Linked DNA regions of Homo sapiens: region 1 is linked to region 2. The links come from fine-mapping of genetic effects on gene expression. A gene starts in region 2. The other region holds a variant in brackets. All regions are shown on one strand. Distances are from middle to middle. Region 1 overlaps SDCCAG8 (SHH signaling and ciliogenesis regulator SDCCAG8). Region 2 holds the start of SDCCAG8 (SHH signaling and ciliogenesis regulator SDCCAG8).

What was found. PIP is the estimated chance that this variant, and not a neighbour inherited with it, causes the effect.
Region 1: its variant is the best candidate, but not a certain one, in a credible set for the expression of SDCCAG8 in whole blood (TOPMed, PIP 0.54).

What each region holds. Positions count from the first base shown.
Region 1 is chr1:243,414,862-243,431,619 of GRCh38, reverse strand. SDCCAG8 (SHH signaling and ciliogenesis regulator SDCCAG8) reads right to left here. Exons shown (of 18, transcript NM_006642.5): 14 at 15,791-15,918; 15 at 13,544-13,652; 16 at 5,062-5,193. Among named protein-coding and RNA genes, the nearest start is that of MIR4677, 77 kb to the right of the region's middle. The variant T/C (reference allele first, on the strand shown) is at 8,252.
Region 2 is chr1:243,245,750-243,262,507 of GRCh38, reverse strand. It overlaps SDCCAG8 (SHH signaling and ciliogenesis regulator SDCCAG8), which reads right to left and starts at 6,467. Exons shown (of 18, transcript NM_006642.5): 1 at 6,268-6,467. The coding sequence starts at 6,334. It overlaps CEP170 (centrosomal protein 170), which reads left to right and starts at 7,227. Exons shown (of 20, transcript NM_014812.3): 1 at 7,227-7,468.

The sequences.
Region 1 (16,758 bases), 170 kb before region 2:
CTGCCTTTGTGGACACCAGGGGTTCCAAACCACCAGTTGAAAATTTAACTTTCTTCGTTTTTACAACTTGAATGATCTTTACCATCATTTGAACATTAAATTCATGGCCAAAACGTAACGCTTGATCTCATCCCAAACCCAGGCCATCTCAACCCCAAACCAGCTTCTTTAGAGTGTTCCCTAGTTCTCAGTAAGTAGCAGCACTAGGCACCCATTGCTCAGGTCAGAAATATGGGTGTCGTCCTTGACACGCTCCTCTTCTCCACCCAGCACTGCCAATCAAGTAACTCCTGCTGGTTCTACTTCCTACACATTTCGCCAGTGTTTATTTCTGTCACCAATATTAGCATTCCAGTCCAAGCATCATCATTGCTTGACTAAGTCCAAAAACTCCCTAATCGTTTTTCTGTTTGTTTGATTTTTTAGACAAAGTCTCGCTCTATCACCCAGGCTTGAGTGCAGTGGTGCCATCTTGGCTCACTGCAACCTCCGCCTCCCGGGTTCAAGTGATTCTCCTGCCTCACCCTCCCGAGTAGCTAGGATTACAGGCGCTCGCCACCACACACAGCTAATTTTTGTATTTTTGGTAGAGACGGGGTTTCACCATGTTGGCCAGGCTGGTCTCGAACTCCTGACCTCATGATCCACACACCTCGGCCTCTCAAAGGGCTGGGATTACAGGCGTGAGCCACCACGCCCGGCCCATAACTGGTCTTGAGCAAACACGATGGCTCTGTTCCAATCTGTTATCTATTGTGGAGTTAGAATACAATTTTTAAATGCAAATCTGATCACATCTCCTCTATTTTTTAAAAAATCTTTTGATTTCTTCCCATTAGTAACAAGATAAATTTAAAGGTCCATGATAAAAACATAAAGACCAGCCCGGTGCGGTAGCTCACGCCTGTAATCCCAGCACTTTGGGAGGCCGAGGCTGGCGGATCACGAGGTCAGGAGATCCAGACCATGCTGTCCAATACGGTGAAACCCCGTCTCTACTAAAAATACAAAAAATTAGCCGGGCGTGGTGGTGGGCGCCTGTGGTCCCAGCTACTCGGGAGGCAGGAGAACTGCGTGGACCTGGGAGGCGGAGCTTGCAGTGAGCCAAGATTGCGCCACTGCACTCCAGCCTGGGCGACAGAGAGAGACTCCGTATCAAAAAATAAATAAATAAAATAAAATAAAAACAAAAACATAAAGACCCTGCCTTTAGGTCCAGCCCTTTCCTACCTCTCCAACCTCATTGTATGCCACACTTTCTGTTTTCCTTTATGTTGGACACACAGTTCTTGCTCTTCCTCCAGTACTATGCTTTCTTATCTCAGGAACTTCCATTTTATAGATTTTCTTTCTCTAGAACAGGAGTCAGTAAAATTTTTTAGGAGAGGGCCAGATAGTTTGCCAATTCCTGATCTAATCCCACTGCTTACCGATTCAAATGTCATGTTCTCATTGAAGCTTTTCTTAATCAATGTTAAGTGCCCTGCTGGGGACAGTGGCTCACACACCTGTAATCCCAGAGATTTGGAAGGCCGAGGCGGGAGGATGGTTTGAGGCGAGGAATTCAAGACCAGACTGGACAACATAGCAAGACCTAGTACCCACAAAAAGTTTTAAAAATTAGGCCAGGCATGGTGGCTCATGCCTGTAATCCCAGAGGACGCCGAGGTAGGCGGATCACCTCAGGTCAGGAGTTTGAGACCAGCCTGGCCAACATGGGGAAACCCTGTCTCTACTAAAAAATACAAAAACTAGTTGGGCGTGGTGGCAGGCGCCTGTAATCCCAGCTACTCCGGAGGCTGAGGCAGGAGAATTGTTTGAACCCAGGAGGCGGAGGTTGCAGTGAGCCGAGATCGCGCTACTGCACTCCACCCTGGGCGACAGAGTGAGACTCTGTCTCAAAAAAAAAAAAAAAAAAAAAAAATTAGCAGAGCATGGTGGTATGTACCTGTAGCCCTACCTGCTTGGAAGGCTGAGGAGGGAGGATCACTTGAGCCCAGGAGTTCAAGGTTACACTTCAGCCTGGGCGACAGAGTGAGATATTCTCTTAAAAATAATTTTTTAAAAAACAAGTTCCCTTATTAAATGTACTTGTACCACAAAATATATTTCTCCTTCATAGAACTGGTCATTACTGTACAGTTGGCCCTTGAGCAACATGGGGGTTAGGAGCATCAACCCCCTGTACAGTCAAAAAATCCATGCATAACTTTTGACTCCTCTCAAATTCAACTACCAACAGCCTACTGTTGACCAGAAGCCTTATATTGATAACATAAATGGTTGATTAACACATATTTATATGTTATATGTGTTATACACTATATTCTTACAATAAAGTAAGCTAGAAAAAATATTAAGAAAATCATAAGAGAAAATACTTTTACAGTACTGTACTGTTATATATTGATGCCATAAGTTTATAATGTCTGTTTATAAGATGAATCATCTGAAATGACAGGCGGCTGCAGCTGCAAACTTCAATCTAAGCTACATATCCTGCAATGCAACTTTTGCTTGTAACGTCATGACTTTTCTCTGCTTCTTGGAAGTACTTCCAACATCACTAGTGGCACTTCGTATGGGTCCCACGGTGTTATTCAAGGTTTATGTATTGCACTAAACATGATGAAAAATACACAAGAGCTGCAATAGATCACTTGTTATTGCAATAAGCAATTTACTGGAGAGAGAAACTGTTCACATGCAGACGATTTAGTCCACACAGCGTTTTCAGTGGATACTTACAATACTTGAGCTCCTCGCAATAGCAACAGGAGGTGGTTACAAAATTATCACGGTAGTACAGTGTGTGCTACAGTTAACTTCATGCAGTTACGATCTAATACTGCACCTTCACATTTGACATTTCTCTCAATTGCAGATGGTACCATGTATGATCTGTGTTTGTGTGTGTAAGTTTGGATAAATTTTAACTTTTTATAATAGATTTGCATATATTTTATGGTAGTCAATGATAAAGACCAGTATCTACAGATGTTTTATGTATTCATGACATACTTAAATTTAAAACTTCTTTTCATTATTTCTAGGCTACATGGTTTGTCTGCAGGTTTTTTCAAATTGTTGCAAATCTCCAAAAAATTTTCCAATAAATTTATTGAGAAGAATCTGTGTATAAATGGGCCCAAACAGTTCAAATCTGTGTTGTTTAAGGGTCAACTATAATTAATTAGACAGTTATGAAATTCTTTTGCTAATATCCATCTTCCCTATAAGGATGTATACTCCATTAGAGTGGGAACTATATCTACTTTGCTATTTTATTCCAGCATGTGGTAGAAAATGTGACACACAGCAGCAATCAATCAATCAATCAATCAATGTTGAATGAACGAACCATTAATTTGCCACCTGACCTTCATTCGGCACGTTTGTCTTTCTTAGGCTTAGTTCTCCATCTGGAAATGGAGATGATAAATGCAGCTACTTTCAAGGTTGCTTCAAGGTACATAAGGTACTATGTGTGAGAGCATTCTAGGAACTCTAAAGCAATACACAAATGTAAGAAAATAAATGGAAAGATGCCCCAGGTGCACAGGACTGGGGCAAAGGCTGGCCCAATGGCCAAATCCTCTGGCTCATTTTGTTGGTCCTCTAGCTAAGAATGGTCTTTACTTTTTCCAAGGGTTGTAAAAAACACAAAACAAGGAAGACTATGCCACGGAGACCACGTGTGGCCTGCAAAGTCCGAAATATTTACTCTCTGGCCCTTTACGGAAAACGTTTGCAGACCCCTGGCCTACAGAAGTGCCTGGGCTTAAGTAAACATTTTAATAGTGAATGAATAATTATTACTTTGCAAGTATATCCATATTTTGGTATTTTGATAACTGACAAGCAGTGCCATCATCTGACTGCCTGTCTTCATTCAATAAAGCAAGTAATCAACGTAAAAATACCTCCCCCCCACCCCAGGCTAATATGCTTACTTTACATTTAAAAAAATACAAGGAGTCTATAAATATTTTCATTTCCTTCAATTATATCAAGAACTGTTTTTGAAACAGAGAAGGCATGGATGGCTGGGAAATGGTGTGGGGATGCCGAGCTGGAGGCCACGCGAACCGTGTCCACTGGAAGGGTGGCTGCTATCATCGTGCATGCGGTTGTCATGTGGAAGTCCAAGTCTACAGAAACCTATTCACTGTCTGCTGTGAAATACTGAGATTATTTTCTGCCCAGGGAATCCATTATCACACAGAAGTGAGAAATGGCACATGGATAAAAAATAGTAAGAGGCTGTGTTTATTGCCAAAAAAAAAATCCCCATTACTGCACAAAAAGAAAAGGATTTTGGAGTCAAAAGATCAAGATTCAAGTCTGAACTCTACCACTTATTCCATCTGTCACTTTGAGCAAACCTATTAGCCTCTCTGAGCCGAATTTCTTCATCTAGAAAAAGAGAATAATAATTATTGATGACATTTAGTGGGTGGCCTTTATGAGCCATGTGCTTTGCCATATTATATTTGATCTTTCCATCAAAATGCAAAGTAGATATGATTAGCGCCAATATATAGGTGAAGAAACAGTCACTCAGAGAACTTAAGTGACTTGCTCAAAGTAACACCACCAGAAAGAAGTGAAGGTTTTGTTTGTAGTCAAGTTCTGACTCTAGCAATGCTATTAGTGCAACCTCTGATAAGATGTTTAACCTCTTTAGACCTACTATGTGCTTTACCTTACAAAAAGCATATAAAATCTAATTTCTAGGAGAGATAATTTGAAATTCCTCCATATTACAATATTACCAACTTACACCTTAAAGGAAAATGGCTTTCCTCCATTCTTCCATGTTAAATCTAATTCTATGTCTTCAGAGAATAACAAAAAGAGGATGTACTCTCCTCTTTGTATATAATAAGAACAACCTAAATTAAGGAAGCATAAATACATAAAATAAAGTATTAGATTTTGAGCATGTCACAAGTAGCATAATGATGATGAATTCTACTTATTCCGCAGCAATTCCCCTTCAGTGTGTAAACCAAACACATTCAATATGCGGCACATGAGTTGACATGAAACCTTGATTACCTTTGCTTCATCGTCTCATGTACTCTCCCATGCTGGACACACTGTTCCTCCAATTCTTCATTTCTTCTCTGTAACTTTCCCAATTTATCATATGTATACCTTTTTTCTTGACTGAGTTGAGCTATTTCAGATCTAGAGGTGAAAACACAAAAATAATAGATGTTAGAAGTTCTTATTACTAGGGCATATTGTTATTATATAACCTTAACATTATCTTAAACTCCACACTTAAACATGATAGCATAATGAAAACTACATCCTTTGCAAAAGAAAATATTTCAGAAATGGCAAGATACATTGTAGAGACTCATGTGTTAGACAGAAAAAGGAATAACAACTTACTCTAACAGAAATGGCTTCCCTAAGGAATAAGACAAACATGATAATGATCAAATCTCTTTTTTAAAAGACTGTCATTCATTTAACAAATACTTACTGAGTGCTTGTTATAGGCCAAACACTATGCTGTCAAAGAAGAAACCCTAGGCCTAATTTCTATAACAGAGTTTCTTTTAATTAACATAACCAGTTTAATGGCACACAGTTAAAATAAAAATAGTTCTTTAATGGTTAATTTTATGTGTCAACTTCTTTGGGCCATGGTGCCCAGACATTTGGCCAGACATTATTCTGGACATTTCTGTGAGGGTGCTTTTTAGATGATATTAACATTTAAATTAGTAAACTTTGAGAAAAGCAGATTGCCGTCCATGCAGGCAGGCTTTATCCAATCCACTGAAGGTCTTAATAGAAAAAAGATTGACCTCCCCTGAGCAAAATGGGAATATCTTGTTTTTCGTGTCTTAGATGACAATCCAAGTCTCAAAATTTGAAGATCAGAAAGATGTTTATCCAAGAAAAATTATATTCCTTTCCTTGTATTAAGTAAACTCTAAATTACTGCCTACTGCCACCATCTCCTCATGCCCTAATGCCTAATCAGTTAGAATGGAAAGTTTAAAACTCTTGTATATTATGAGTCGTTTTCAGGTTAATGATTGGATTGTTTTCTGAAGACTCCTGACATAAAATTAATTCCCTTCAAAGAAAGAATTCTTCCAGTAGGCAAGATAGCCTTTTCTTCCTGGTCAGAAAAGGATTTGGATTTGCTAAGGGAAATCTTACTTTACAAATTGTTCATCCCAAGGACCAGGCTGCTCACGTGTATGGAGCAAAAACTCTTGCTTTTAGTTCACCTCATTCTTCATTTTGTTTTCATCTTGGTTCAAATGTCATCCAAAAGGAAGCTTGCCCTGATTGATACCTTGCAGTTCTCAATATGTCAGCACGTTTTTTGAAGCTACCTCTAGCCTTTATGCATACATTAGCTTATAATTTATTCTTTTAAATTGTGCTCTGTGCCTTGTCTTTCCTACCATATTCTGTATGAGAGCATGGATTATCTCATTTTCAAGTTCAGATCAAGTGCTCAATCTACATTTGCTTCTCCTAATAAGAATCTACCCATATTTGAAATAGTCCGAAAGGAGTTAATAATGACTTACGTTTCTCCTTTCAGAATCACATACAATACAAAAGAATTTAGAGGCAGTTATGATAAATTTTTGATCTGGTATCCCTTCCAAGATTAGTATCTCCTATCATACCATGCACTAAAATAAATTTCAAAAGAAGAAAAAAAATCCTTAAACCAGATTAGAAAAAAATGCAGAACATTGATCTTTTCCCAGGCACTTTCCAAGCAAAAGGCACTTTTAAAAAGAAAAATCACAAAGAAAAAAATAGATTTTACAATATAAAAATACAAAACTTTTATGCATAAAAAAATCACATTTAAAATATATCATAGGTTTGTGTGAGAGTATTCATTGTAGCATTGTTTCTAGAAACAACCTTTCTTTGCAACCCATAATCTGGAAACTTAACCAAGAAATCTATCAACAGGAGCTTGGTTATGTTACTTATTATTCTGATAATGTGGCTATTTATAAGTGATATTTATTGATCTAAAACTGTGACATATTAGTAACAAAGAGAAAACATTAAAAGTCAGCATGTGTAATGTGATTTCATTTTATAATTTAGAAAAATATTTTGACATGCATACCAACTATTAATATTGGTTATTTCTGGATGGTAGGATCAGGAATGTTTTCTCTGTTCTGTATTCATCCTTTTCCATACTTTCTAAATTTTTAAAATAGATATGTATTTTATTTGTTTTAAATAAATTCATTCTGATTTTGAAAAAAATCATAATAAAACAAAATGTAGATGTCACTGGTGGGGGAGGTTGTGTGTGGAAGGAACAGGGAATATATGGGAGTTCTGTACTTTCTGTCCAGTTTTGCTGTGAACCTAAAACTGCTCTAAAAAATAAAGCTTATTAATTAAAATCAATGTAAACAACAGGAAATTATTTACAAAAATAAGACAAACATTAAAAGCATAATTTAATGAAACACTAACTGCACTCTCCATCAAAATTCCAATTAAAAAGTATAAGAAATATTGAAAATATCTACAGAAGAAACACAAATGATCAATACCATTTATAACATATTCAATTTCACTATTATTCAAAAAATAGCACAACAAAACCAGATACTACCACCAAATATTTACTGCATGCCACCGTATAACAAACAGTGAAATCCATCCTTTACATTCATGATCTCAATTAATCCTATAAGGTACTTGTAAGGGTTTCTTTTCTTTTCTCTGTGAGGTAAACATGAAGTTGAATAATTTGCCTAAGGTCATCCAAGTAGTCAAGCCCAGATATTACTTAGTCCACCTCTAAAGGGGTGGTTCCACCCACCTGTGCAATATTGCCTCTCATGCTTTTTTAAAAAAATCTCACTTCTTTGTAATGTTATTTACTAATATGGCTACATATACAGTTATTAGAAGTTAGTGTAGTACTTCAGCAAGGTAAAACACATCAACACCCTTAAAAGGATTAATCGTCTTGGACCAGCAATTAAGGAAACAATCAAAAATTTAGATTTAGGTACAAAGTTTTTGTTGTATTATTATTCATAAACGGTTAAAAATTGGAAGCATCTTAAAAGCCTAATAATTCTTATACACGCAAATCATTTAATAAAGTTTTGTTTTCAGAGTATTTACTGATATAGAAAAATGTTCATTAGATATCAAATGAAAAAGCAGACGCAAAACTGTATATACGGTATAATCTCAATCACACTATAAATGTACACAGACA[T/C]ACACATGAAAAATGACTGAAGGGAAATATATCAGAGGTAAGAATAGTTATCTCTAGCTGGTAGTGGCACAGGAAATTTTCCTTAATTCTTCTTTGTATTTTCCAAATTCCCTGCATTGAGGATGTCTTACATAATCCCAAAAATATAAATGTTATTTATAAAGTACACATCACTATCAAGTGTGTATTGCAACAATCTTTTTTTCTGCTTCACATTTTTGTTTTTTTCTTTGTTTATAATTGTAATTTGCCTACCAACTTCCATTTTTCAATAAAAATTTGACATATATGCCTGCACATCATCCTTTTTCTGTCTGCAGCTCACGATATGTTCCTAGAACTAGTAGTTTGCAAAGCTCAAAGAGTAAACTTACAAGTTTTCTGTTAGTTAGGAGATACATTTCTGGCATGATTATCCTGTGTCATATAAAAGGATAATTGACTCTAATCCATTTTCATAGAAAATTCAGGCAATTTCTGGCTTTACAGAAGCATGAACTTTCCCCTGTATTTTTATATACCAGTTATGTTGCATAATTGCATTTGCATGAAATATATTTTACTACTATAATTCGGATTAAAATGATAATTGCTTTCAAAGGGAAATACAATATCTTAATTTTTTATTCTTTTAGGTTCTAGTTTGACTTTTGGTAACAATTAGCAGAGGCCAATATCAGTCTCCTCTTGTAGAAAATATAATTTTTATAGTATCCCAACCTAACATCATCTAAACATGCAAAGGAAAAAAACAGTTCAACCGGGTGTGTGTTCTTCACCTCAATTAAACTCACACAGTTGGATACCTACTGTTGCCAAAACAGTAATATAATTTACACATTATAGTCCACACAGTAAAACTACACTAAAAGTCATTTAACAATATTTATAACACCATAAAGTATAGTGTTAAAATATATGAACTGCAATATGTACCAAAATTATAAAATTTGTTTCTCATCATCAGTGATTAAAACCGGGATCATTGCTCTAGCCTCAATACTCACAACCCTGGTGACAGATTAGAATTCAAATCTTAATGATCAATTTACAATTAACAAGATAGAAGTGAAACAAATTAAACCAACCATTATATATAACGAGACCCCATGGACTCCCATTGTTCCTCTTAATTACAAAACGCAAATCACAAATACACAATGGGCAGTGTTAGACATCAGTCCACAAGCCTCACAACCCAGAAAGTGACAATGACAGAAAAGAAAGAAGCAAAACCACATAGACCCTGGTTCTATGCTCTATCCTGTTCTTTTCAGTGTGCAAGAGGTGGAAGCTAAAACCTAGCACACACTTCTCTCCACTCTGTGGCTGGCAGAGGCTCACTCCCTGCCAGCACCCAATCCTTCCAGCTCTCCCAGGCCAGGTGTTAGATAGCACTGCAAACCGCACTGCAACGTTTTACTGCTGATTCATCTAAGCGCGTGGGGAGAGAGAACACTTCCTTCACTTTGATAAAGAAAAATCACAGTTGTACCGAAGATATTTAAATAGCTCCGTTTACCTCCTTCAAAAAACAACCCCATAACTATAATAAGCTCTCAGAGTACTGGGGAATACAGAAGGAAGGATAGCGAAAGTTTATGTGAGCTTCAACTAAAATCAGCCAGAATGTCTGCCTGGTGCCAATTAAAAGCAAAATGGAATTAATTCTCTTGCCTGATGGTCAAAAACAAGCTATACAACATGCACAGAATCGGCAGTTCATTTTAAGTTTTAAAATGGGACGTGCCATTCACAAACCCCGGGGTTACAGACACCACTACGTGCAGTGTGGAGTACACAGAGCGCGCAAACTACTGTGCTAATCACTATGGAGGCTTCCAGAAAACAGAAGCAGTCGTCACTGCCATAATGCGACTTACGGTCTCCTTGGGGAGAAAACACATACAACAGACACACACACGGAGGTACCATTTCAAAACATTTTCACAGAGCAACAGAGCAGCCTAGCATGAAGCTGGGGCAGAGAGTAAGGGCGTACGTGCACGCCGAGCCCATGCTCTCAGCTTTCCCGTCATTCTGCATGGGCTTCAGTCAAATGACTAGATCTGTGAGTTTAAAATCTTGTTTTAAATGGTAGGAATCTATTTGTTTAGTTGGTATTTTGAAAAACAAGACTCTTAGAGTAATGTTGCTAGTAACAGAGGAAGGAAAAATATGTCTTAATTATTGCTCAATACAAAATAAATACACTTACTTTTCAAGAAGAATTTTACTGTAATACTCTGAGGAAAAGCTGGACCAAAATTACCATATGGATTGCATAAGTATAAATTTGGAGACTGAGTTTCCACAATGACAAAACTTTAGAAACTCCAAGATTTTCCTTACCTCAAAGCACAGGGAAAATTATTTATCCCAATAGTTTGGCATGGGGTATGCAGAGGCACACTCCTGGAGGGCTTCTTCAGAGTTTACTACATTAATAATTTGTATTTTAAAAGAAGCAGTTTAAGCCCTTCAAGTTTTATAGGTGGTTTCAAAGCAGAAGGTAACATCAAAATGGAATGTAAAACTTAACATGAATGAGTTATTGAAAATGTCATAGTAAGAAGCCAGGGAGAAATGAAACTGGAACTAAAAGAAATTAAGAACAAACAACCCTAAAATCAAAATTTGTCCTATTCACTACCTTCTTGTGAGGCACACAAAATGCACTTTTCGTAAGTTTTAGGGGCGCTTGAGAGTTTTAAAAATAGTAAGTAACAATTTATCAAGTGTTTACTACTTGCCAGGCCTTGGTTGAGTCAAATTGTAAACTTAGAGTAGGTGCCTGCTTTAATTCATCAGAGTTACAAAATACAACTAGATCCACATTTTCCTGATCTGGCTGTTTTAAAAAGGCTTTCATTGTGGCATAGACTTATGTCCGTCGGAAAATGACAGTCAGACTTTCCCTGGCAAAGACAATAGCTATGTAAAGTGATACCCAAATTACCAGTCAAGACCCTTAAAAATGCCACCAGTGAAAATAATAGCAGCTACTGTGTATTACTATGTGTCAGGCACTGTGCTAGGCACTTGATACGTGTATGTATGCGTATCTATATACACAATTCTAATTCCCATAACAATCCTGCAGTGTGGCTTTAGAAATGTTTTTACAGAAGGAGAAGCTGAGGTTTGGGGAAATGAGGCCATGTACCCAAGGTTACAAAGCTCCAAGTGGGAGAGTGAGATTCAAACCTAGTTCCTCTGAATTGCCATGTGTTCTTTACTGCACACTGTCAGCCATCAACAATGGGACAGACTGGCATCAGAAGTCAGATCAGGAGGTGCGAATAGCACCACACCTATTTGTTTCATTCATTCATCATTTATTCATTAAATGCCATCTATGTCAGATACAAAAGAATACATCCAATTTACAAAGTACTGTTCAGGAGCTGGAGGAATGAGAAGCAGGAGGAGCAATAGAGGTTCTGAGTTAGACCAGTACAGGCTAAGATGACAGATCTAGAGGAGGAAAAAGAGGGCCTAGGGGCACAGAGTAAGTTAACCGTTACATGCCAAGGACGCTTACTTCTCCACGGAAATTTAAAGGTGAATTTTTCCTTCCCAAACTTTCTCATCATAACTACTGTGGCTTGAATTTTCTTTAGCAATAGATGTAAAATACTGTAATTACCATAAGAAAGAACGTATACTTTGGAACCAGAAATACCTATGTTAGAACCGTAGCTCTCCCACTCACCAGTTATTTAAACAGTTTTGGTTTCCTTATCTGGAAGATAATAATTCCTGCCTCAAGTTGTGGTGAGAATTAAATAACATACCAAGCACCTTTTTGTCTCTTTTATATAATAAATTTCCCTAATTAGGTCTCCTTGGAGAGCAAGATCACTAATCATTCACAAACCAATTTTAGACCTAATACATTTATATAAAACCCAGATTGATATCATTTTATCCCTAAATGATACAATCTTGTTTGTTTGCTTCTAACAAATTACTTTTGGATCTATGTGGTGCAAATCAAGTATTTCTGGTTAAGAATAGCTACTGTTGATATTTTATGGGTCTCTTTCATGACAAAATCATTTGGTTTTCTTGGTCAAATTTCCTTGAAATATCTGGTATTTTGGCACCTAGGTTTTCCCCTACCAAAATACAATCTTAGTATACGCTAGGAAGGTGCGCATGTCAGAGTACATTCTTGGTGGTTACAGGAGCCTCTGCCTTCCTGGTGAGCAGGGAGAGTTGGATGCACGAGCCCTCTGATTCCCCAAAAGATTCAGGGATGGGGGTTCTATCAGCTAAGACAGCTTGTTGATGCAGGATTCCAAGATGGAGCTCAGAGTGATCAGATATGCCCTGATACTCCCAGAAATCCTTCCCGAATGAAACATCTAGGTCAGTAGTTTGTTTGCTGAGCCATATTTCCTGCTCTCAATAGATCTATGTGAGTTTCAGAAAAATGCAGAAAAGAAGACACACAGGCAATTTTTTCATTGAGTTATCATATAAAGTAGTATTTGACATCTTATCAGTTATGTGAATATTGCCTTCTATAGTTCAATTTAAAGTGATTCTGTCCAATGTCTTTCATTTACAAAAGAAGAAACTATAGTCCAAGTAGGTCAAATACATTTGTCCAAGATTATTCAGTTACTGTCGGAGCTGAGATGGGGAGTCGGGCTTCTTGCAGTTTAGAATATGAAATAATTTATTCATTGAGATAATCTGACTAGAAAGTGTATAGAAAAAAGTCATTAAGATTCCAATCAATGGATTTATAAAAGAGTAGTATGCTATAAAATGAATGATGGCTGTTCTATTAAAATATAACAATTTTAGGAGAAGGGAAGAATAGTTTTGGTTTATTTATTTCAAAGTACCATCTACTTTCATTTTTATATATACACATTTCATCTGTTATCATTTAACCTAAAGACAGCTTTTGTGTTCATGGTGAATTGTAACAATAGATTAAAATGTGTTAACCATACCTATGTAAGATTTTATAACTGCTTGATTTATCTGCATGTTTATGTTATTACCATATTGATCCTTCTTTCCTGAAATTTCACAGTTTTCAATTCTAAACATTGAAATGTCAAATAATAGTACATACACATAACCATGAAAAAACATAAAAGCGTATAGACAATTAAGAAAATGTCCATATGTAGAAAATATTTTCAAAGAAAACATCAGCAGATACCTAATTTTGACATTAGACTATAAAACAGTGCAAATGATGTTTTTTAAGGAAAAATTAGAGTAATCACACAAACAGTGCTCTTGAAAGTATTCTATAACATCACCTACCTGGTTTTTTGAGAGATTTGTTCCAGTTTCTTGGCTAATGTACAGCATTCTTCCTTTAACTTTGTCAAAAATGTATTCTGGGAGGTCAGCAACAAATACTGTTCATTTTCTAGAAATAACAATAAACCCCCACCAACATAAGATGTTTATGGTTGTCGCTCTGCAGTGCTTCCATACATAGAGTGGTAAAGTGCTTAGACCCCTACACATTTCCAATAAGCCACTAGATCACCTTCAATGTCCTAAGTCAAAGGACTTATCATCTGGAAAGACACTCAATCTTGGGAGTCATTTATTTTCAACATAATTATACACCAGAAACATTTTTCATCATACCAGCTTGGTGTAACATTTTAACATGTTAATAAAGTGTCAAATACCTCAAGTGGAAGAATAGATGCTTATATCTTTGCAATATGCAAGATATTATATTTTTATTTTGACAATTTTACTATAAACAGAGTGTCAAAAATTATCACAACCAGATAACTCAAAACTAAAATCATCGAGGAATTCTCTTCTACACTGTAATTCATGCTTTGTTTCATATTTGCACACATGGTTTACTACCACCACCACCCCCAATCTTGCATACACTTCTCTAATTATGAAGGTAAAAATGTGTATTTTCTTTAGAATTTTAATTTCATTGTCAACAGCATGAGCTTCAATGGAGATCTGGTCAAAGAAATTGAAAACAGTGTGATTTTGTGTATGTGTGTACAAGACAAAAGGAAATGTTCTTAAGGCGGTTTTAACAGTTAAATACATTCTAATCTAGTGCTTAGATTCTGCCCAAGACTCTGATCACTAGGATCATGCTAGCAGTGGGGGCAAAAACAATAATTTATCCTACAATTGCCTCTTTTTGTTTTTAGAGGAAAAACTTCTACTAAACCTGGTGAATTTTCGTTTCTTCTGGCCAAATGCTGTTGGAAGAAAATCTCTACTGAAAGTGATAGAGGGAATTATGTGAGTCAATATGACATTTGCCTCTTCATAAGTAAATAGATTATTTAATGACTTGCCTGTTGGCAATTTTTCACCCATAGGATAAGAAATAATTTCTTACTGTGTCATCAAATACAATATATTAATACATTAAATCATATGAAAATTACCTCTAAGCATAAGTTTTAAGAGGCCTTTATTTCTTTTCAATTTTAGCCAATGATTGGCAAAAAGCATATAGCATACAAATCAAAATAAATCAAGGCACTAAAATTAAGCAACATTTTTCTGGAAGAGACAGGATCAATTAAACTTTTGTTTTAATAGTACAATCAGTGTGGAGTATGTGGTGTGGAATTATAATGACTGACACTGTCTTGTTTTGACTAACACTGTCTGTGAACACACAACTCAAAAGTGAAAGAAACTACATAATGCTCTGACTGAACAAATCAAACTGTCTATTTTCAAAGTGCATTTTACTTTCAAATTAAAGGTAAAGAGTTACTGGCCAACTCAGTCTGCAGAATAGTGCCAATGTGATGAAAGATGGCAATTTTTAGCCAAGCTGCCAGCTGTGGTCAGTGCCTTGTATTAGTGAATTTTAACAGCAGTTGTGAGAACTTGAAGAATGCAAAGGATTAAACATCACTCTAGATTGGGTTGGGGGAGGTGGGGAAATCATACAAATGCTAAAAATGTTCGAAGCTGCAAAGATTAAATAAAGGAACATATCAATTTGGAGCCACTGAATTACATCCAGCTGCGACAGTGAATTAAGAACCGATTAATGGCTAAAGCTTTTCTCCAGTTTGGATGCTGAAGCAAACTCATTAGGCTTTTAGAGTAGCTATAATGTGTGTACTGTGGGAACTGTTCAATGCTATTCAGGAGACTCTAACTGTAAGCTCAGAGCATTTCCCGCAGAGCTTCTGATGCTATTTTCTTTATATAACATGTGTGCCTGAAAACCCAGCCAAAAACAAGCCCTTTGTTTTTCTACTTTGTTGTGGTCTCTCTCAGCTTTACGTTTCTTGAACACAGGTAAATAAACTCATAATCCAGATGGTGCAACAGATGTGAGAGCAGCACTCTGAAATCAACAGACAGTGGGCAATACTTTCCATTTTCTCTTTTAAACGCTAACTAATATGTAATTCGGAATCTCCGGTGTAGTTAGCATCTGCTCCCTTCGGCCAGCCAAAGGTTACAGGTGTTCCTGATGTCATTTCACAGTAAGGCGTGGGCCTGACTTGTGAGCTAGTGCCCAGGCTCTAATCTTTCCCTACCACCTACCAGTTTTGTCATGCTGGGCCTCCATTTGCTGTATCTTCTGTGTCAGCTCCTGCTCTCTTTGCTGGGCCTGAAGGGCTTGGGCCTTTGCTTCCTTGCTAAAGCTCTGCTGAATGCTATCTTTTTCCTGTCTGCAAAACAGAGAGGAGACATACAGAAATTTAATCTGCAGATGCACAAACCCCCATCATGTCCCCTATAGACCAGAGAGAGCTGATACGTAGTAAATTGTTAAGCATAAGAAGACAAGGACCTTTCTAATGACCCTCCCCCACTTTAGGGGGAAGATCCAAACAACCTTCCATACAGTGTTAAATACGTGCCATGAATCCAAATGGACTAAAGTGTGCAGTGTCAAAACATCATAACAACTAAATAATGGTATTTTGTAACTTTAAAACACAAAACTTTTTTCTCTAATATTCTTAATGTTTTACACTATCAATGAATGTTTCATCTTCTGAGTGGTCAATCTTTCCCAGAGATACTGGAACTCTAGGAACAAAACTTAAATTCTTAAAACTAAGCTTTGTAGACCACCTCTGTTTTCACTCTAAACTTAAAATGGAATCTTAAATATAATGCAGGAGCCTCTATCTAGAGGCGAGTAAATGATTCTGCAGTGCCACATTCATGTTTTCACTAAATATCTTCACACATCAGGCCATATAATGTGAATATGAATACAAATATGAATACGAATAACTTCCCCCAGCACTTCATAATAAAATCCCTCGTGGGTCACATTGAAAGAAATTGCAGGATGAAAAGCTTCTGTAGTCAGACAACAACCCATCGTACTGTGATAGGACACTGACCTATCCCACTGGGTCAATAACCAAGCACAGTGGCTCCAAAGAGAGAAACTTCCTAAACAATTAGAACCTGGGGAATGCAAAGGACCTCAATGCTGGCAGCACTGTGGATACTGACAGTGTGTGTGTGCATGTACATGTGCACACACACACACA
Region 2 (16,758 bases):
TTTATCTCATCAGTAGTAGGAAAGAAAAATTGAGATTGTACTTTTAAGTTCTAGTAAAATAAAAGATCATAAAAGTTAAAGGCACTAAGAAGAGCCACATGAGGCCAGGCACAATGGCTCATGCCTGTAATCCCAGCACTTTGGGAGGCCAAGGCAGGTGGATCACTTGAGGCCAGGAGTTCGAGACCAGCCTGGGCAACATGGTGAAACCCTGCCTCTACTAAAAATAAAAAAATTAGCCGGGCGTGGTGGTGGCACCTGTAATCACAGCTACTCGGGAGGCTGAGGCAGGAGAATCGCTTGAACTCAGGAGGCAGAAGTTGCAGTGAGCCAAGATCACATCACTGCACTCCAGCCTGGGCAAAAGAATAAGACCCTGTCTCAAAAGAAAAAAAAAAAGTCGGGCACCGTGGCTCATGCCTGTAATCCCAGCACTTTGGGAGGCCAAGGCAGGCAGATCACCTGAGGTTGGGAGTTTGAGACCAGCCTGACCAATATGGAGAAACCCCGTCTCTACTAAAAATACAAAATTAGCCAGGTGTGTTGGCACGTGCCTGTAACCCAGCTACTCGGGAGGCTGAGGCAGGAGAATCGCTTAAACCTGGGAGGTGGAAGTTGCAGTGAGCTGAGATTAAAAAAAAAAAAAAAAGAAAAAGAAAAGCCACATGAATATATAAAACAAAAGATGAATATGTATAATTTGAATTTTATCAGCAAAAAACCCCTCATGTTTATGTGTGTATATTCCTATATAGTGCATATGGCAAACAATATTTAAAAATCCAGAAAATATTTGAGAAAAGCAAAAAAGAAATACAAGTTTTATAAGAAAACAGGAATACTTATTTGAGTTACACATATGTTTTCTTAAGACAGCCAGATGATATCACTGCTGGCTAATACACTGACCAAATTGTTGGCTAGTAAGACTAACACAGCCCTTCTACAATTGTGAGCCACTTTGCAGGATTTGGATAGATGTGCTAATCATATACAAGCAAAACATAGAAAGTCAACCTTATCTTTGGTTTTCTTGAACTACATCAATTCGTAAAGACAAGGCCCATCCCTGAGATTATATATTTTCTTCTCATATTCATCCTCTCACTTTCTGTGTACCTGGTTCAACTCCTTACTCTCATTTCCATAAGACAAAAACATAGCCCTTAATCATTCATCTGGTCCAAACAAGTGCTGATGGAAGGAACATTAATGATCAAAGGGTCAGAGAGTGGTGTCTAAAGGGGAATCAGGCTCTGGGTGTGTTTTGCTTGGCTTCCTTCTTGGAAGAAAAGAGGGAGGAAAAGAGGGAAAAAGAGAGAAGAAAAAAAAGGAAGCAAAGAGGGAGGGAGCAAGGAAGAAATTGAAATGTTTTTAGAAAAAGCAGAAACTGCCCAATTTGGCCATAAGCCTCATCATTTCCCTTAATGTCTTCCACTGACTCCATCATACCTTTTGATCATTTGCTTGGCACCTAAAGGCAATAATTCTCACATCCAGTCCAAACTTTTCGTTTTACAGTTGAGGAAACGGGAATCCAAGAACAGTGTGTTTCACTTGCCTAAGGTTACCCAGATGGTTGTCAGCAAAGCAAAAGTAAGTGCAGTGACCTGGCTCCCAGCTCCACATTCTCTCCTCTGACCCCACCACACTCTTCCCATAAATTCATCTAAAGGCTGAAACACCAAAATGTTGACAGAAAAAGGTAAAACCAGAATGCAAAATGTATATAGAAAATCATGAGTTCCTGTCATACAAGAAGTTTGTTTCATTTTTCCTTATACTCACCCAACCAAAGGTGGCTAGGAATGAGGTGAATAGGTGAGTCATGTATACAGGTGTTGTTGATAAAATTGTTATCTATTCCCAACGCTGCAGCAAGAGATGAGACATGATTCTGTTATTAAGGCTAAAATACTGCATTTCTAGCAATTTTTCTCCTTTCTGATATCCCCTTACACTCAAGTGTGCAGTACTTAAAATAGAGCCTGGATTGCCTATAATTGTGGCTTTTTTCACCCTTTCTTGGCTATGAAATAGTTCATTTCATACCTCTTGGCTTTATACAACGATGTATTGAATTTAGAGAAGGCGCATGTGCTATCTTGCCCACTTACAAATGTAGTTCTCGGCCATTCTGTGGTTGTTGAATTATAACTACCCATAGAGTAAATGAACACCTAACCTTACTGCCAAGAGACCTCCCAAATCACTTCCAGTTCTAGATTAAATTCTGTGGTTCCCAGGATACCCAGGACACATACACTTTTAACCACACTGGAAACTTTCAGACCATTTACTATGTAGGAATAATACAACAGATCTGTGGGGGCAACAAAGCCTTCCGGTTTTTCTGCCAGAACTCTCGTTTTGAAGAAGAATCATTAAATGTCTCCAATTTCTTGTAAAAGGGCATAGGCGACCCAAAGCAAGAGATATCTTTAGAGAAGTCAAACAGCAAATCCACTGAAAAGTGTAAGGGAATGGATGAAAGGTGAATGTGGAGCTGCTCCAAGATCATCAAGGTCAAAATGAGGCAAGGATCTCATTTTAAAAGCAAGAAAGTAAACGCTGACTCAGTTTTCACATTACAACTTCAAATTATTGATATACCATAATAGTACCAAAATTAAAGAAATGAGGAAAATATCTTTTTTTGTTTGTTTGTTTTGGAGATAGGATTTCACTCTTGTTACCCAGGCTGGAGTGCAGTGGCGCGATCTCAGCACACTGCAACCTCCGCCCACCGCAACCTGCGCCTCCCAGGCTCAAGCAATTCTCCTGCCTCAGCCTCCCGAGTAGCTGGGGTTACACGCGCCTGCCACCACGCCTGGCTCATTTTGTATTTTTAGTAGAGACAGGGTTTCTCCATATTGCTCAGGCTGTTCTCGAACTCCAGACGTCAGGTGATCTGCCCGCCTCGGCCTCCCAAAGTGCTGGGATTACAGGCGTGAGCCACCGCGCCCAACCTCATTTTAAAAACAAGAAAGTAAATGCTGACTCAGTTTTCACATTAGAACTTCAAATTTTGATATACCATAATAGTACCAACATTAAAGAAATAAGGAAATTTGTTTTTGTTTTTGTTTTTGTTGTTTTTTGAGACAGAGTCTCGCTCTGTCGCCCAGGCTGGAGTGCAGTGGCGCGATCTCGGCTCACTGCAAGCTCCACCTCCTGGGTTCATGCCATTCTCCTGCCTCAGCCTCCTGAGTAGCTGGGACTACAGGCGCCCGCCACCACGCCCGGCTAGTTTTTTGTATTTTTTTTTTTAGTACAGACGGGGTTTCACCGTGTTAGCCAGGCTGGTCTCCCATCTCCTGACCTCGTGATCCGCCCGCCCCAGCCTCCCAAAGTGCTGGGATTACAGGCGTGAGCCACCACGCCCGGCCCCAGGAAAAGATCTTTTTAAAATGGAAGTACGATCACGGAAAATAGGGAAAGCATTTTGCATTTTTATGCGGCCACTTCCTGGCTGAATATCAATGAAGGGATATTAGTAGTGACTACATGTGCAGTTATTTACAAGCTAGAGGAAAAACCGGTGAGGAAAGACCAAGACTGTTTATTAGGCTTCCATTAATCATAAACTACGCAAGGCATTTGGGGAAGTAATGGTGGGTAGACAAAACCAAACAAACCAACAAAACCAAAACAAAATAAGACATAGAACTTTAAACTGCATTTTATCTTACTACATAGTAATACAATTCTTAAATTATTAGGCACACTCAAAATAAGGAATTTCCACATAACTCCAGCATTGTTTATTAAGGAACAGAATACTTTACTTTAAAGGGAATTATCAGCCGGGCGCGGTGGCTCACGCCTATAACCCCAGACTTTGGGAGGCTGAAGTGGGCGGATCACTTAAGGTCAGGAGTTCTAGAGCAGCCTGACCAACATGGCGAAACCCAGTCTCTACTAAAAATACAAAAATTAGCCGGGCATGGTGGCGCGTGCCTGTAATCCCAGCTACTTGGGAGGCTGAGGCTGGAGAGTTGCTTGAATCCAGGAGGCAGAGGCTGCAGTGAGCCGAGATGGCACCACTGCATTTCAGCCTGGATGACAGAGTGAGACTCCATCTCTAAATAAATAAATTATACTACTCAAAAATAGCAATTTATATTTGTGAAGAACTTCTGACTGTACTTAAGTTCAGAGTTAATTCTGTTTTGTTTCCTTCCAGAAGCTGTTATATAAGCTAACATACAAAAATAAAAGTGCTACTAAATAAATGATATGTCCTGAAAAACCCATAAACATTTCAGGTTACATTTCCTGATTCACTGTTAAAATTATGAATACGTTTTTTTTTAAGTTGTTTAACTTTTTCTATCCTTCGTATTTGCTCTTGGTGAAATGTTTCCACTACCTTATATTGTTATCACACTAAATTTAAATTTTATTTCAAACTAATTTTAAAATGTATTATCCTTAAATGAAAACCCTTCATTCTGTAATTATTGAAAGCAGTACCACTAGTATTAAACATATTACTATAACATTAATTTAAAATGAACCCCTTTACTGCGTCAAAATGCCTAATGTTAAACAGCCTCCGACAATTATATAAAGACTTAAAATAAGGTCAAAGGAAGAGAAGCATCAGGAAAAACTTTCAATGAAAACAAAAAATTTTTGCCAATCTTAAAAATTACAATTACTCATATCATTGTGCACAGTATTTTTCTTGCTTCCAAATGAAAAGTTAGAAGTGCTTATTTTGTATCTAACAGCTCTTGAAACATCAGTAGGTTGAGGAAGGTGTTCATTAAAACCGATTTTTTTACTCCTGCAGTTTGAATACTGAGAATGTCGACAGTTTGTTAACACAATTGACAGATGTAACAATACATAGTAACCCTTATAAAATCTAGAGTCATGAGAAGATAAACTTTCTAATATTGAAAAACCTTCACTTTGCTTTAAGTAACAAGTATAAATAACAATTAACATTTAATGAGTGCTTGTCTAGTAAGCACTGATCTTTACCCTTACTTTCTATCATAGTAATCTATAATTATTTTTTTTTTTTGTCTTTCTCCCCAACTAATCCAGAAGCTCCATGGGGATAGGAACTTTGTCTTGTTCCTTACTGCATGCCTAGCACCTAGTATGCTTAACACATAGTAGGAGGCACTGACACATAGTAGGCATATTATGCAGAACAACACATGCTTCATAACTTAGTATTCTCAATGTCGCAAACAGTCATGACCTAGAGGCTTATGAAAATGCAACAGAATAGAAAGCAGAGTTTATTACATTTAGTAGAATAAAAATTCTTCAGTGAAACTTATAGTTTATATGTACACATATGTCCCATATAAAATTTATTTCTTACTATAGGTAAACATTTTAAGAAGTCTTAAAATCACTGCTTTATGGGGATTATTTCATTTGCTCCCCACAATAACCCTATGGACAATTCCATAACTTCCATTATAACAGAATCGAAATTTCTAGATGTTATATATGCTGTCCAAGTTGACAGCGCCATCTAAAAGTACAGACATTAAGTCCAACAGAGCTTAAAGGAAAATAAATACAGACATTATTTGTACAGATACTTGCTCATATGGTAATGTGGTAAGAAAATCTAAATTAATAAGGTTTTGATAATAGTAATTATGGCTTGATTAGTAAATACAAACATAGGCTTTGAAGGCAAGCCTGATAATACCTGGCTCTGCAACTAACCAGCTGTGTGGGCTCTGGCCTGTAATTCAACCTCTCTGAGCTTCGCTTTCCCCATGTGTAAAATATTCACACGATTGGTGTAAGCTGCAGATGATTTACTGTATGTAAATAGCCTAAATCAATTAAAAGGGGGCTCTTGTGATTAAAATAATTATTAGTGTTTCCCCCCACTGATCCCATAAATCACATTCAATCCACTGTGCCATAATTTAAATGTGTAAAAACTGTGAATCAGACTTTTATTGGATTAAATAGCAACGTATGGGAACTGAACAAAAATGGCATAGAGCTATCCAAGAGTTTCTGCTGTCGCCGGTTGAGAAAGATGCCAAGTTAAGATCAAGGAGTTGATTGAGGTAACTACGGGAATCTGAGGAAACATCGTTGCTTAACTGTAAAAACTAAATCAAACTATTTCATCCTCCTCAAGACCACAGCAACATCCATCTTGCTCCTCTGTAGCGTGGACGGGGCAGAACCCAGGTGTTAGGAAACGCACCTGGTCTGCTCCCGCCCACTAGGCCCTGGGCACCTCGGGGCTAGGGACAGAGGTTTGGAGCAACTCACCCCGGAGACTCCGTTGATACTGCCCCAGAATCTCCTCCAGGGTAGAGTTCTCCGGGGACTTCGCCATGCACGCACTCTAGGCCCAGAGCTGGGAGTTACGTGGGGAAATGTCCAGCTTTCTCCCTTCCGAGAACAACAGGCCTGTGGCCGGGGAGCGCCCGCCTGCTTCCTGCCGCGGCTGTCACAGGGGAGCCTAGAATCCCGCACAGAGCTCTTGGGGGCTCTTCCCACCCACTGGCCCTCGCTTTGCACGTCGGGAGTTGTAGTCCTCACGTTCAGAACCTGCAAGCTCGACAATCCTCAGGGCCTTCCAGTTACACTACAATTCCCAGAAACCACTGCGCTCCAGGCGCTAGCTTGGACGGTTTGGCTGCCAGAGCCTGCTGCCAAGAGACAGGCTTGCAGGCCCCGCCCTTTTCCTCCAGCCCAGCCTGGTTTAGTCCCGCCTCCATCCCACTCTTCAGCTGCCTGGACCACCCAAATGACAGAAAGGGCTCACTGAAGGCCTTGACGCTTCGAAATTTGCTAATATGCAGCAGTTGATCCCCAGGCTACTCAAGGACGCAGATAGTAAACTCTGAACCCTGCTTCAGTTGCGAGATTTTTTAAAACGGTCGAATAAATCTTCAAGAAATAGAAGCTCTAAATCTTCCAAACAGCCTAGATTGTAAAGGCGGCCGACACTACAACTCCTAGCATGCCCAGCAACCGGACCTTCACTTGGAGTTGGCGCTCTGCCCGCTGGGAACTGTAGTCCTTGTTGGTTGCGGTCCCACCTAACGCCGAGGTCCTCTTCATTGTTCAAGCTGGTCTTTCGGGGCACGCCTGCGCAGTGGGCAAGCTGGAAAAGCGTGTGGGTGAGACCCTCGCACAACCCCTTTTCATTGTCTGTGTGTGGCGCCTGCGCAGTAAGGGATCGTTGGAACTGGGCAGGAGGGGATAGGGTCCGGCTCCTCGCCCTTTCCCGAGGCGCCTGCGCACTAGGCAGTCGGTCTTTGCCGTTACCGCTATGTGTGGGGCGTGTGTGGAATAACGTTATTGCCCAGCGGAGCTGAGGGCCCCGGAGCTCGACCGCAGCGGCAGCGACGACAACAGCGGCGACGACGACGACGACGAGGTGGGGGGAGGACGGCGTGCGAGAGACTCACGGGACGCGACGCGCCCCGCCTCCCCCGTCCGGTCCCTCTCTCCACGGTAAGGGGTAAGTGATGCGATCGGCTGCTCGGTGTAGGCGCCGCAGCCGCAGCCACCGCCGCGGCTGCTTTCCACATCCTGCTCCTCGGGTTTGCGGCGAGGACTCGGGCGCCGCCCGCCGCGGGGCGGGGGTGCGGGGCTGGACCGCGAAGGGGGCGCTTCCCGGGTGCTCCGCGCGGCGCCGCCACCCCCACCCTCTGCCCGCCTGGGACCCGGGGCTTGACGGGACCACCCTTCCCATCCCCCACCCGCCGCCCCCCGGAGCTCCAGTCCTGCGGCCCCCCGGCTTTCCCGAGCCCCTTGCTGCCGCCTCCGCATCCCCTAAGTGCATTGAATCATTTTCAGCTTTCGACTGGCTTTGTGCAGCCCTCCCCCCTCCGCCGTAGCAGTTTGCGAGGGGTGCGGGCGGAGCATTGGAGGGAATGGCTGCGCTGCCGCTGGGGAAGGGATTTTTCCCCCATTGGAGCAGCTCCCCGGGCCAATCCCTTTTGTGTGATTGGTTTTGGGGTGTGAGGCGGTTGGCGAGGTCAGGCGAGCAACCTTTTGGACGCGTTGGGAGGGCGTGGAAGACGCGGTGTCATGCACCCTGCCTGGCGACTGCACCCCGTGGAGGCTCTGGCTCTGTAGTAAACCCGGGGGAGGAGAGAGTGGCTTCCTGTCGGCTTCATTGTCCTAGGATTCAGATGTAGGGTTTTGGTACGTTTCGCTTCCATTTTATGCAAGCGATGAAAAAATAACATTTGCAGCTGCCTAACACAGGGCGGGAAGACGTGGGATTTGTATACTAAGTCACAGAATCTCTGTTCGGTGGTGTTTCGTAGAGTTTTATTTATTTATTTATTTATTTATTTATTTATTTTGAGGAATGTAAGGAAGACAGGGACTATGCCTGCTGGAGTCCAAGCACTGCCAAGGTGATCAATATAAAATTACTAGGTGACGTTGGAGCCTGGGCTAGAGAGGGCCTGACAACGAAGCTGTTGTGTCAGGGAAATGAACAAGCAGAATTGTTTTTTCATTGGGCAGGTAATGCATTTATGTTCCTGAGGGAATGGATACATCTTTCCGTTTATTTTTTAAGCAAGTAAAACAAACAAAACAACTGGCCCAGTACATTTCTGTTACCGAAGTTGTTAACTCATTTTTATTCTCTTAATGAAAATTCAGCCATTTGGGAGGAATTTGGCGAAGCAGATGATACATTTGATTGAAAATGCATATTTTAAAATGATTTAATCCTTAAGCTTACAATGTATGCAGCCGTTTGCTGGCGTTGCTTCTTAAAACACACCAGAAGAGAGAATAAAGCAGGATGGGGAGGAGCAGGTGGAGGAATAATGGGAGAGGAGAGAGTGACATTATGACTATAGTATCTGGATCTTCACTGGTATAACCCTAACTGGGTATGCTTCAGAGACTTAGGAATTCAGCTCTGGAAACAGTACACTGATGAATAGCAACTTATGTATTTTTCTGTTATTATTTTTTAAAAAGTAAAACTAGGGCTGCCTTTAGCTCTTCCTAACTTTGTAGATAACACGGAAGAGCCCAAGTGCACTTGACAGAGGAAGACACTAAAACTCAGAAAGTTAACTGACTTGTCTGCCCAAGCCAGACAGTTAATCGAAGGCAGAGCCAAACGAAACTCAAGGTCCATTCTGCAGAGTGATCTTTCCTGTGTCCCCCTAGCCCTTTTACCTTGTGAAAATGTATGGAAAGCTTCTCTATGTGCTCCCTGAGTAGGCTGTGACTATCACTGAACTTGATTCTCACCGTGATTAATCTAGTTCTTGCCTTTGTGATGTAAAAGTAGTAATCCTCCTAAAATGGACCTTTACTTTCATAAAGTAACTTACTACATGAGGAAAGATGTCCTAACATGTGCTTTTCATAAAAACGAAGTGTTGCAGTGTTTTCCCTACTACCTAATGGTAGCTACTTAACGGTAGGTTTTAATATTATTTCTTGAAAATCAATAGTATTTTATAATAGTATGATGATCAACTCTATAGGCTGTGTTAAAAATAAAATTTCCGCATAACAAGAACCTATGATGTTTATTTTGCCACAGTTAATGAGTTGTAATCATTAATGAGTTATTAGTGATTACTTTTAACTTAAACTAGAATTTACATTTTAAGATATATTAACTTTATGTTTTTTATTGGGTTGATTTTGCCATAAAGTGCTTTTTTCTTCCCTTATAATTTTAATCGTTTAATTTTACGTTGCATTTTAATAGACTTCTTTAAAGGATTTATTATTTATCTTAAATTTCAACTTTAAAAATCTGTAACTAAATTTCAGTATGTGGGATTATATTCAATCATGCTTTAAATGTATTTTACTGGTAAATTTCATTGTGTTCTGAGATTATTTTGTATGGAAATAATCTGCCTGTTCCCTATTTTAACATTAGAATAGTGAAATTTATACTGTAAACCTTAGCATACATTCTGCATATTAATGCTGTTATGGTACTTTTTAAAATTCTGTGCTTCGTGATTTATTTGATTTGTTCCAAGTATCAGTTTCTTGTTCCTTTTTATCTACTGAAAAAAAGAACTAGTTTTATTATTGTATCTGATTGCAATTAGATAATGCTCATCTAGTACTAAATATTGTATATGCTTAAGCTTTTTTGTCAAAATGTTTTTTATTCCACAAAATTGTATTCCTGAAAAATATTTTTTCTATACTAATTAATAGGTAAAGACTTTTCTTTCTTATCTGTCCCAAACACTGGGATGTTAAGCAGTGTACTCTTCAACTAAGTATCTGACAGACAACCTGATATTTAATTGCTAACTAAAGTATCTGTACAGTTGCAAATTATTCTGGAAGTATAACAAAAGAGCAGTTACGTGCCATTTGAAGAATGCTTGGTGAGTAGATAGTATTGACTGGAGCATTCAGTGTTGATCTGTTTCATTAAGAAATGGGATACTTTTGATGGGAAGAAATATCTTTATTTCATTAATAACCAAAATTTCTAATCAGATACCCTAGGTTTTTATTTACTTACTCAAAAATTTCATAAAGGAGTGTTCAGCAGTGAGTTAGCCATTGTGAGAGATAAAAAACATCTGTCTGGTAGTGTGGTTGATTAAACTGGATATATTGTCCAGTTTAGCAGAAATGTTTTAGCCAAAGCCAGTGACATAGCCAATGTGTGTTGCTGTTAAAGCCCACTTTTATATCAAATAAAGGTGGAAAAACAAAACAGCAAAAGCAAAGTTAAAGAAAACCTCATAAAATCTACTTACATACAAACAGGAATTGCAGAAAGTATAGAAGTGGAAAAGAATCCCAAGCATGCATTGTTGAGGTCTGAAAAACAAATGACACATAGCAGAGAACAAGTCATTTTTTAAGTATATCCATAAGTAATAAATGATATAGAAAATATTACCCTTTGAAACACAATATTTATTGAATCGTTGAATAATACCTACCAAATTTTGAACATTTCCTAGGTGCCAGGAAGTTTATGTGTGTGTGGTGTGTGTGTATTTAATTTCTGCAACAAACTTCTAAATTAAGGTATTATTTTTACACATTGAAAAAATTTGAAGCATAGAGTTAGTGAATAACTTTGCCTCTGCGTTACACATTCCTAAGTGATAGGGCCTATAATTGAACCTTTGTCTTTTTGGCTAAAGCCAAAATTCTTTCTACTCATCTTTTTTAGTAAGTTAAAGGGTACCACTTATTTCCTTACTCTGGTTCATAAAATTTTAGAATTCAAGGGAACTTTAGAAGTCAGCTCATACAATGTATCACCCACTACTAATATCTCTGAGATGTTATTGGGTCCAACTTCTCCACAAACCCTTCCCTGGGCATAGGAAAGCCTGTTTAGCTTCCAAAAAGTGTAATAGGAAGATCTCACTTAAATTGAGCTAGTAGCTGCTTTTACTATATAACTTCTTCCCACTGGTTGCAATTCAGTCTTTAGGAGTAAGATGAAGTAAGGTTTTTCTCAATATATTAGCTAGATTTTCTCTTGTCTAAATGTTAGGACACCTCCAACTTCATATGGTTTCCTTTGCCATCCCTCACATCTCTCAGCTGGATTCAATCAGTTTTGTCAGTGCTATTCTTTGTGTTCTGATCTTGTTTCCATATTTAATTCTGCAGTTATGGTCTGAATGCAAAGTGCAGTGAAATTGTCCCTTTCCTTATTTCAAGCCATACACTTGTGTTTAAAGTCTAAAATTGTATCAACTCTTTAACAACAGTCATCTCTGCTAATTCAAAGCAAAAAGCAGAGAGAGAGAGAGAAATGTTACATGGCTTTTCAAGTTATATTTATGTAATTCAAGGTACTATTTTTTGAGATTTTGTTCTCCTTTTCTAATGTTCATAAATGGCCTTTATTAAATGATAGTGTTAGTAACACCTATTAAGTAATGATAGGTTAAGTTTCTTTTGATGTTGGTCATGGGGTTTTGTTTTATTTTAGTGTTCCTGATTAACCAATAAAAAGTTGGCAGCCTTATGTTGATTCTTAATTTGTTTTCTGAAAAATTGGTCTGGAAACCACTGATGTAGTCAACATAAACCAACATTTTTACACTTAGCTAGATTTCTCCCATTGTGTATAAACACACAGGTGATGTTTTTAAACCAGTATTTTACCATTGCCTCCTATTAAATTTCATCTCCGTGAACGTAGCTATAGTTAAAACTTGAGATCTTCTTGAATCATGATTCTGTCATCCAAGGGATTAGCTTTCCTTCCTGGCTTTTTGACATTTATAAATTCAACAAGCCAAACTCTTATGTCTCCATCCTGGCCATATACTTAATATAGCCAAGGACAAAGCCATGCACATTTATAAATAGAATGAATGTTACATAAATAAAAGATGCTGGGAGGAAAGGTGACACAAAAATAATGAAAACCATTCGGATGGGTTTTTTTTGTTTGTTTGTTTTTGGGGCCTTTTTGTTTGTTTTTGTTTTTGTTTTTTTGAGACGGAGTCTTGCTCTCTCGCCAGGCTGGAGTGCAGTGGCTCAGTCTCGGCTTACTACAACGTCTGCCTCCTGGATTCAAGCTATTCCCCTGCCTCGGCCTCCCGAGTAGCCGGGACTACAGGCACGCCCGGCTAATTTTTTGTATTTTAGTAAAGACAGGGTTTCACCATGTTGGCCAGGATGATCTTGATCTCCTGACCTCATGGTCCACTGCCTAGGCCTCTGAAAGTGCTGGGATTACAGGTGTGAGCCATGGCGCCTGGCCTTGTTTTGTTTTTTAAATTAAAGAGAAAACCATTATATCCTCCAGCAGTAAAGGAATTAGATGAAGTTTACAATATACTGGAGGATATGGATAATTCTTTTACGATGTAAAGTCAAGTAAGGATAGATGCTATGAAGAAAAATTAATCAAGGTAAAGAGACAGTGGTAGAGGACTGCTGTTTTACATTTGTTTTCAAGTGTTCATTCAGGTAGTTTTCAAATAATATTTTGAAAAGAAATAATATGAAAAACCTTTTCACCCTACATCTTATCTGCTGAGTTACCACTTTTGCCAATCCAGTAAGTAGCTATTTTTATTATTTCTTATGTATTCTTCAATGAACTTTATTTATTTATTTATTTATTTATTTATTTATTTATTTTGAGACAGAGTCTTGTTCTGTCGCCCAGGATGGGGTACAGGGGCAGGATCCCAGCTCATTGCAGCCTTGACCCGCTGGGCTTAAGCAATACTCCCACCTCAGCCTGTTGAGTAGCTGGGACTACAAGTGTGCGCCACCATGCCCAGCTAATTTTTTGTAGAGATGAGGTCTCACTATGTTGCCAAGGCTGGTCTTGAATTCCTGAGCTTAAGTGATCCTCTTTCCTCAGCCTCCCAAAGTTCTAGTATTACAGGCATGAACCACCACGCCTGGCCATGAATTTTTCTTCACCTCAAGCAAATATAAATACATATTTTGTGTCCCCTCTATGACACAAAAAAATAGCCTCTTTATCCACTATGCTACACCTTGAGAACTATCTTAGAGTGGTTAGGGAATCCCTCTTTCTGAGGTGACATTTAGCAGAGAACTTGCATTAGGTAAGGAAGCATCTTGTAGGTATCTGAGTGGAGAGTATTCTACTCAGGTGCGGTGGTTCTGAGGCAGGAATGGGATAAGTGAATTTGGAGAACACTGTGGCTGAAGGTGAGTGAGGAAAAGGTGCTTATAGGAGGAAATGAGGTTGCATAGAGATTTTATTCATTGATTTTAAGTGCTATGAGCATTCATTGGAGGATTTTGAGCAAAGCCAAAAAATTGGGTTATATTTTTAAAGAATGGCTCTGGGAATTCTTTAAAACACTGGGAACCATGAGATAAGCTAGGAAATGATTGGAATGATCTGGTTTAAGAGACATTAATGGCTTAGACTAGAGCGACAGTAGTGGCAATAGTGAAAGTTACTAGTTTCTGGCTTTAGAGAGTCAAATGTTTTGGATATGTTAAGTTTGAAGTGTCTGTTAAACGCCCAAGTGGACACATCAGGTAGGCAGTTAGATATGTAAGTCAAGCATTCAGAGGAGAGGTTTGGACTGAGGATAGTTAAATGTTAAGCATCACCAGTAGACTTAAAGGGATCTCTTGGCTAGGGAGTTAGACTGAGAAGAGATCCAAGAATTGAGAATTGGTACTTTCCACATGGAAAGCTGAGCAAAAGAGAAGGCGCCATCGAGGAGGATTGAAAAGTGGACAGTGGGGTGTGAGGAAACTGAAGAGTGTGTTGTCCCACAAGCCAAGTAAAGGAAGTATTTTTAGAGATAAGGAGTGATCAGTCCCCTGTATCACCTTTAATCACCTAAATACTTCATAAGAAATCAGGCAGTATCCTCTTTCTTTCTGAATGGTCTCTGAGAAAGCAATTTCCTTTTTTAAATCTGGTTTATCAACATGAATGTTCACAGTTATTCTCCCCTGGCAACTACTAAATCTAAAGCCCTGAACAAAGTTTTACTCATAAAGAGGCCAATGCTGTTTCCTACGTGGATGAGTATGGCAGCTGCTGCTGCCTCTGATGTTTGAACAGGAGAAGCGATGCTGTTTCATAGGAAGAATTTATCAGGAAGCTAGTGATAGTCCAGCTACCTCAGAGGTTTATTGTGGTAGCCAAACGAGGTAGATGTAAAAACCAAATGAAAGGTATAATTGCAGATAGGGGTCTCCTTCCCTTATTGCCCCAAGTGTGGTACCAACTTGATAGTGTTAGATTTGAAGAACTATGTTGGCAAATAAAAATATTTTTCATTTTGAGTCTGTAGGAATAGTTTTTTACTTCCTATGCACTCTATCCCGATAGGCAGTTTCGCACATCATTTTATAATATTCTTGAGGGTAGAGAAAAGGGCTAGAAAGAGGATAAGAACAACCAGGGCAGGCGCGGTGGCTCACGCCTGTAGTCCCAGCACTTTGGGAGGCCGAAGCGGGTGGATCACCTGAGGTCAGGAGTTCGAGACCAGCCTGGCCAACATGGTGAAACCCCGTCTCTACTAAAAATACAAAAATTAGTCAGGCGTGGTGGCGCAGGCCTGTAATCCCAGCTACTCAGGAGGCTGAGGAAGGAGAATTGCTTGAGCCCAGGAGATGGAGATTGCAGTGAGCCAAGATCACGTCACTGTACTCCAGCCTGGGCAACAGGGTGAGACTCCATCTCAAAAAAGAAAGAAAAGAACAACCAGGCTTTGAGATAATAGCTTTTTTTCCCAATCCTAAACTCATCCTTTAATTCTAAACAGTGTCTAAATAAAGAGAATTGAGGTAGAAAAGTAAGCAAGTTAAAAGGCTTCCTTACTTTTTTTTTCCCTAGGCCAGCCAGGAAGACTTTCTTCTTTTAACTGACTTTTTTCTGGAAAGTGTTCAACTGAGTAATGGTTTGTCACATGTTACATGGAATAGAAAAAGTGCAAATTCAAAGCTTAGGGACTGGTTAGGGGTTTTGAACTCTAGGCAGCCAGCTAGAAACTGATTTGAGGAAGCAGGAGGGTGGGGGAAATGAGTCTGCTTGATGATAATAGGGGTAAAGTGCAAAATACTTATTTTGGTGAAAAAGGAACATCGCAAATACAGGACTTTTTGTGGTAAGCTTTTTGAGGCAATAGGACTATAACTTCACAATACATAGGTATCTTGCAGACCTTATATAATATGATTTGCTATGGCTGGTCATTAAATACTTCTCCTTGGATAAAAAATGCATATAATGCATTGCAAATTGAAGGCCATTTTATTTTTTATATTACAAATCTAATCCTAATACATGGCAGAAAATTTAGAAAACAAGATTTTCTACCATTAAGTACTATCATAATCCCACTAGCCAGTAACCCTGTTATGTATTCTTGTCTATTCTGGTTTAATTTGGTAACATTTTATCATGAAGTTAAACTTTCTGGCTCTAACTTTTAATGTGGCATAGAATCTGTCTTCTCAAACATGTAATCTACTTACACACAATTTATGAAAATTAAATGTATTTTTAAAATTGTAAACAACAGGCCGGGCCCAGTGGCTCATGCCTGTAATCCCAGCACTTTGGGAGGCCGAAGCCAGCAGATCACTTGAGGTCAGGAGTTCAAGACCAGCCTGGCCAACATGGGGAAACCCTGTCTCTACTAAAAATACAAAAATTAGCTGAGCGTGGTGGTGCACACCTGTAATCCCAGCTACTCGGGAGGCTGAGGCAGGAGAATCGCTTTAATCCAGGAGGCAGATGTTGTAGTGAGCTGAGATTGCTCCACTGCACTCCAGCCTGGGTGGCAGAGCGAGACTCTGTCTCAAAAAAAAAAAAAAAAAAAAAAAGTAAACAACACTGTAATGGACATTTCTAACTCTGAATTTCTGTGCAAATCAATGTTTTTCTTTGATTTCAACAAATTATGCTTAAAATACAATGCAGATACAAATGCAGAATTCTACTAATTAAACCTTTTCTAACTTTTTAATAAAATTACCCCCTCCAGTTTATATCAGTTTATTCTTCTACCACTGGCATATGAAACTGTGTGTTTCTTCACCCCTTCATCAGTGCTGAATATTACGTATCTTTTTTAAAATTTGCTTTCTTTTTTCTTTTTTTTTTTGAGACGAGGTCCCGCTCTGTTACCCAGGCTAGAGTGGAGTGGTGTGTTCATGGCTTGCTGCAGCCTTTACCTCCTGGGCTCAAGGGATCCTCTCCGCTCAGTCTCCCAGGTAGCTGGGACTGTAGGCATGGGCTGCCATGCCCATCTAAGTTTTTTTGTTTTCTTTTCTTTTTTGTGTTTTTTTTGTTTTGTTTTT